2 separate regions of the Homo sapiens genome follow, and region 1 is linked to region 2. Evidence: fine-mapped expression QTL. A gene starts in region 2. The other region holds a variant in brackets. All regions are shown on one strand. Distances are between the middles of the regions. Region 1 overlaps LOC101929532 (a long non-coding RNA gene). Region 2 holds the start of DPP4 (dipeptidyl peptidase 4).

What was found.
Region 1: its variant is fine-mapped to the expression of DPP4 in lung (TOPMed, PIP above 0.99).

What each region holds. Positions count from the first base shown.
Region 1 is chr2:162,117,895-162,120,803 of GRCh38, forward strand. All of the region lies in intron 1 of LOC101929532 (a long non-coding RNA gene), which reads left to right. Among named protein-coding and RNA genes, the nearest start is that of GCG, 33 kb to the right of the region's middle. The variant G/A (reference allele first, on the strand shown) is at 1,075.
Region 2 is chr2:162,073,092-162,075,958 of GRCh38, forward strand. DPP4 (dipeptidyl peptidase 4) reads right to left here and starts at 1,124. Exons shown (of 26, transcript NM_001935.4): 1 at 885-1,124; 2 at 308-395. The coding sequence starts at 890. It overlaps DPP4-DT (DPP4 divergent transcript), which reads left to right and starts at 1,766. Exons shown (of 3, transcript NR_147697.1): 1 at 1,766-1,844; 2 at 2,387-2,520. RefSeq lists enhancers at 643-842, 1,277-1,974, a silencer at 993-1,252 and a promoter at 1,529-2,867.

The DNA.
Region 1 (2,909 bases), 45 kb after region 2:
TGTAGGCTCAGCAGATACAGCATAAGGGTGATAGCAGATTTGACCACATCTACAAATAATATGCATCTTTCCAAGAAGCCCAGACTGGGTACCCCTTGAGGCCCCTTGGCCATTGCCAAGCCTTCTCAGAGGTGATGGGAATGAATCCATTCAAATGGGCCCAGGACAATCCTGAATTCTCTCCAGAAAAGGGGAAGGGAGGCCAGCGAGCTGCTTTGCCTATGCACATGGAGATGACTTTCACAAATATTGAATTCAGGCAGGATGGAAAGCTTATACCTTCAGATTTCAAAGGCAAAGGAATATTTTCTGTGGACTAGCTATGTGTGGGGTGATTGGGCAAGTGAGTCAGTGTGGGTTTTTTATGAATTTGTACAAGGACCCTAGATGGTTGAAGGGCCAGAAGCCAGAAGTTGAAGTTAATATCAGATAATTAAGGGCTACAGAAGGACTCATGAGTAACCCCTGACTAACCATTCTGGTTTGCCCGGATCTCAGAAGTTTCACAAGATGTGGGCCCTTTAGGCTAAAATGGGAATATTCCTGGACAAGCTGGGATAGTTGGTCACCCTACCTACCTTGGGCCACCCATAATAGGATGCATTAACCCAGGACAGGACTGCAGGGCAGGGGCCCACCAGGGAACCTACAGGATGCCCGTGAAAGTGCCCATGAAAGAAAGACTCATCTGCAAACATTTGCCAGGCCTGGAAAGCCCGAAGCCAGTACAAGAAGGACATTTCCTGGCCCTTTACCATGTCTCTCTTCTAGCTCTGGCCTTAGCCCAGAAACTGGCTGGCAAGCTGCGGGGAGGGCATCAGAAGGGAGGAGGGAAAGCACTAGGTGAGGAATAGAGAATAAGCCATCCACAGCGGAGCAGCCAAGGAACAGGGACAGGAAAAGGTTTAGTGCTAAATCAGTTTCAGTTTCTGGTTATGTAAGATGTTCTGATTACTGAATTCCACTCACTTGTTACTAAAGGGATTGTAGGACGTTCTTGTCCTCACATACACACCCAAGAGTATCTAGAAAAGTCCTGGGATGCACGTGAATGTTCAACTGGGGCAAGGGAAG[G/A]TTAACTCCACTGAACACTTGAAGGGGAGTGCTGTGATTTCACAATGGGCCATGCTTGTTCAATATACTTCTTATACTGGAAATTTCAAAAATCCTGTTCCAACGAGAGTGACAAATGGCAGGTCAAGGAAATAACTTGTTTATTCCTCTACTTTGTGAGGATTATGCACTTTCCATGGACTGTTTAAAATTCCTCAAATGATGAATTTAAGAGGGAAAAAATCTATCTTTCCCATCTCTCACTCAGTCTCCAATGGCTATCAAACATCAAATATTTTCCTCTTCCCTAGGCTGGAGGCCTAACAACTCTGGGAACTAAACATCAGATTTTCCACAGAGAATTGTGGGTTCATTTATTCTTTGGGATGATTGTCAGATATTACTTGTCTTCCTCTACCTCCACTGTACCCCCTCAATCAGGTGAACCCACCTGCTAAGGCTACCTGTCTCAGCTCAGCTCAGCTCAGCTCATCTCCTTCTACTGGGATCCTGGCCTTCATAAAGTGCCCTTTACACAGACGCTGGCTTGTCAGTATTGCTACATATTTCCACCCAGCCCTGTGCCATCCATACCTGGCACCCAGTCTCAAGATCTGATGCTGATTCTCTGGTCTCTCTGGACCAAGCCATCAGATGCTTCTGACTCAGTTGCCCAGGATTTCTGTGTTAGAAAGAAACTGCCTGGGAACTGCTTCTTGATTTTTCTGGATCAGGCTTCTAGTCCCAACTCTGTTAAAATTCCTGGTATAATCTTAGACAGTTGTTTTAACCTCTGCAAGCCTCAGTTTCTTCATCTATATAATTAGGATAACAATAGTTGTGTTGCCTAGGGATACTGTGAAGAAATCAATTAATAGATGTGAAAACACTTTGTAAAAGTTAGACAGTAAATATATGCATGGTAGTACATATATATGCATTAGTACAATCTGGTTACCACGCTGAAGTTGGGATTTTTGATATTATTACCCTTATCTTTACCCTTCCCTGTCATTGCTGCATCTCTTGGCTTTTTGCTTAGATCCTTGATCTTCAGGACCTGATGTGCTGAATGTCAATATCCATCTGCTCACTGAGATGATCTTATCAGGCTCAATGTCTTCCTGTCACGTCATGCAAAGGTCATTTTCTCGCTCTCTTTCAGTCCCAAGTGAGCCACCTGAGCCTTCTCTCTTCAACTGCTTTTCTTTCTGACCTAATCTCCTAATGAATACGGAGACCTGTGCAATTCCAACCAACACTCTGCTCTTTTCTTCCTTCATAGCTGTCACACAGAGGAAACCCAAGACAGCAACATATTCTGGAAGCCAGGTGAGGAGAGTTTCTAAGAGGGAGAGAGTGAAAAATTCTGTCAAATGTCAAATTCTTTTCAAGGAAGATGAAGCCTGAGAATTGAGCACTGGATTTAGCAATGTGGAAGTTACTGGTGAGCTTGATAGGAGCAAATTGGGGGAAAAAATGAAATAAATTTCAATTAGAGTAGGTTCAACAGAGAGCAGGAACAGCTAAATTAGAGGCAATGATAAACAGCTTTTTCAAAGAGCTGTGTTTTGTTTTGTTACTTTTTTTTCTTAAGGTAAGGAAAAGAATGGGCATTAGCTACAAAGACAATAGGATGATGAAAGGTTTTACCAGACAATACAGACAAAAAAGAGAGGATACACTGATGAGAGAGGAGAGAAGAAAATGGCTGGAACAATGACTTGAGTAGGTTAGAGCAGAGGGGATCCAGGGCTGTACTGGAGGGGCTGGCCTTCAGAAATGGGGATGGCTCAACTATATCGCAGGAAGAGAGTTGGAACATGTGTACACACATGCATCAGGGGAGGACATGG
Region 2 (2,867 bases):
AATTTACAAATTAAATTTAAAATTGAAATTTTAAAAATCCCGACTCTCCCTAATTTCAGGAAGCATGCATTTATTATACATAACAAGACGTGAAAGCCGCAAGAGTTTCAGCCTAAACACTGAAGACCCCGCGAAGTGAATCCAGCTGCTGCTCTACAAGCAGCAACAACAACTGGGAAGCCTTCTCAGCTACACTTCGGGGCACTGGTCCAACCCCACGCAAAATCCCTCGTTTCCCTTAGCGTGGTAAGACGGAGCCTGACCTGAGCTCCAACTGTCCTATCTTTTTCAAATGTTTCAAACTTACTGCCTTTGTTCAGCAGAACCACGGGCACGGTGATGATGGTGACAAGCGCAGCAGCACCCAGCAGTCCCAGAAGAACCTTCCACGGTGTCTGCAAGCCGAGCAGATCAAGTCCAATTAGAGGGAAGCGTGTGGCCCCAGTTTCCGTAGGAGGGTCGGGGCTGCTCCAGAGGCAGCAGGATTTGCAGGTGGGAGTGCGTTAGAAGAGGGAGACCGCGGGCTGGGGGTGGGGGTGGCGTCTGGAGTGCGCCAGTTGGAGTTCTCTAAGGCGGGTGCCCTTGAACTTGTGCCTTCAGAGCACATTAGCGTTGGTTTCTCTACCCCTGCCCGGGTTCGGGCGTGCGTTCTGTGAGTGGCTCTCCGGGACATTCAAAGCTCGACGCCAGGGTCCTAGCAGAAGCCAGGGTCCGAAAGCTAAGCGAGAGCTCTGGGACGTCCCTTCACCTGTCAGAGGGTGGCCTTGGGGCTTCCGCCTAAGGGGAGTCCCTGGTCCGGTTTCGCCAGCTTTTGGGCCATTTGGGGAGTTTGGCGAAGAGGTCCCCACAGCTCGCCCCGGGGACGTACGTGGCGCGGCACTCACCTTCATCGTCGGCGTCTCCTCGGAAGTGAGCGTTCAGAGAAGGAGCGCAGGCAGAAGTCACCGCGGGCGGCGGAGACGCGCGTCCTGCACCGCTGCTCCGGGCGGTGGAGTCACTCGCCGCTGGCAAGTTTCGGCCCCGAGTTAAACATTAGTGAGCGCCGAGCCCGCTGGGTATAAAGGCGCCGCGGGCAGGCTGCAGGGCAGGCGGCGCGGGAGCAGGCGCGCGTGGCGCGGGGCACTGGCATCCCGGCCGGGGGGAGCCCGCGAGGGCCCCCTGAGGGCGGTGTAGGGCGCTGGGCGGCAGCCGGGGCGCAGAGTGCGGGGCCCGGAGGAGCCGTGGGGGAGGGGAAAGGGCGCGCGGCCTCGGATGCGCAGACCCTGGGCCGGCGACTCGGGGACCCTGCTCCCTCTTAGCTAAAAATGACGTCGGCGTTCAGCTCCTCCAACCTCACGTGGACAGGCGAGGGAACCGAGACCCAGAGAGGGCAGGGGACTTTGGCAAACTCACACAGCCCACCGCAGGCAACTGGAACTGAAACCCAGGACTCCGTCTCTTGCCAGTGAAAGTTATGTTAGGAAGCAGTGAGGGGTCTAAAGCAGTATGAAAGGCAAAGAGAAAAGGTGATTGTTCCCTCTTGAATGGCCCTTGGAAGCTGAGTATCTGGATTCACCCTCCCTAGGGAATTTCCCGATTGTCTTGCAGGCTTACACACTCATCAAGATGACAAAAATAATGACAGTAACACTTATGTGGAACTTGACTTTTTCCCAGGTGCTGCTCTAAGCATTTACTGTGTTTGTTTTACAGGAAGGAAGACTGTACACAGAGAATAAATAACTTGGCCAAGCCATTCAGCTAGGAAGTTGTAGATCCTAAATTAAGAGTTCAAGGTCTTAATGGCTACTCTATGCGGCCTCTCATAGTCTTTTCAAGGGTTTTGGAGAAGAATAAAAGATCAGGTATGGCTTCTCCCTCCCCCAGCTCTCTATTGTTCCCTAAAGGATTATTCATTCGTTCATTCATTCCTACATCCTCCCATTTATTCCAGTCATCCACAGATGTTTGAGTGGTTACAATGTGCCAGCCTCCCTTCTAGGTACTGGAGATAAAGTGGGACAAGAGAGGTGAGGTCTGGACCCTTGGCACTTTCACGATAAAATACACAGGTAAACATTTGCCTTTAGGGCCCCCTGTGATTACTTCCACTCTTGCAGATAAGAGGATAAGGCCTCTTCAGCTTGTTCACAGCAGCTGAAAAGCAAAGCCTCTCTGTCAGTAGAGGTAAAAGATTAAGAATGCAGAGTCCGATGGGGCATTACCACATGATTATGAATTAATGCAATTTTCCATCTTTTATTTCCAATCCAGGCATTGCTTTTGAACTCAGTCATCTTTTCCCCCTTGCCCACTAGTTGCTTGTGATACATCAGTATCCTCACTCACCCCCAACTCCAGAGGCTGAAACTAACTCTCCTCCTCCCTCTTCCAACTGCTGAGGAAGATGAGTCAATGGTGTTACTGGACCCTGTGAACTGATGCTGTGAAGAGAGGCCATTTAACACGGACTACGGGGAATGGTGCCACAGGGGGCTCAGTGCTGCCCTTCACTCTCAGCATTTTGCTCACTCAGCATTGGTAAGCCACATCAGCCTCGGTGAAGGAAGTCTGGAGAGTTAAGCCTGTGCTTCATCTCCATGCCAGCACCATGGCACTCATTGTACATTCAGCAAGCCCCAAGGAAGCTGGCAGGAGGCTGGCTGACATCTACGGGACAGGTCAATTTGTTCTCTGGAGGGCACTCCATGAGACGCAAATATCTTCACACCCTGTGCCCATTTCAAGAGACTCTCTCACATGCCTCCCCCACCTTGACCTCTGTGTCACCAGTCTTTCAATCTTGTTTTTTCCAAATCCTTAAGGTAGCAGCTGGCCAACACATTAGCCACCACTGATGAGTCAGTGTAGATCTTACATTGGGCCAT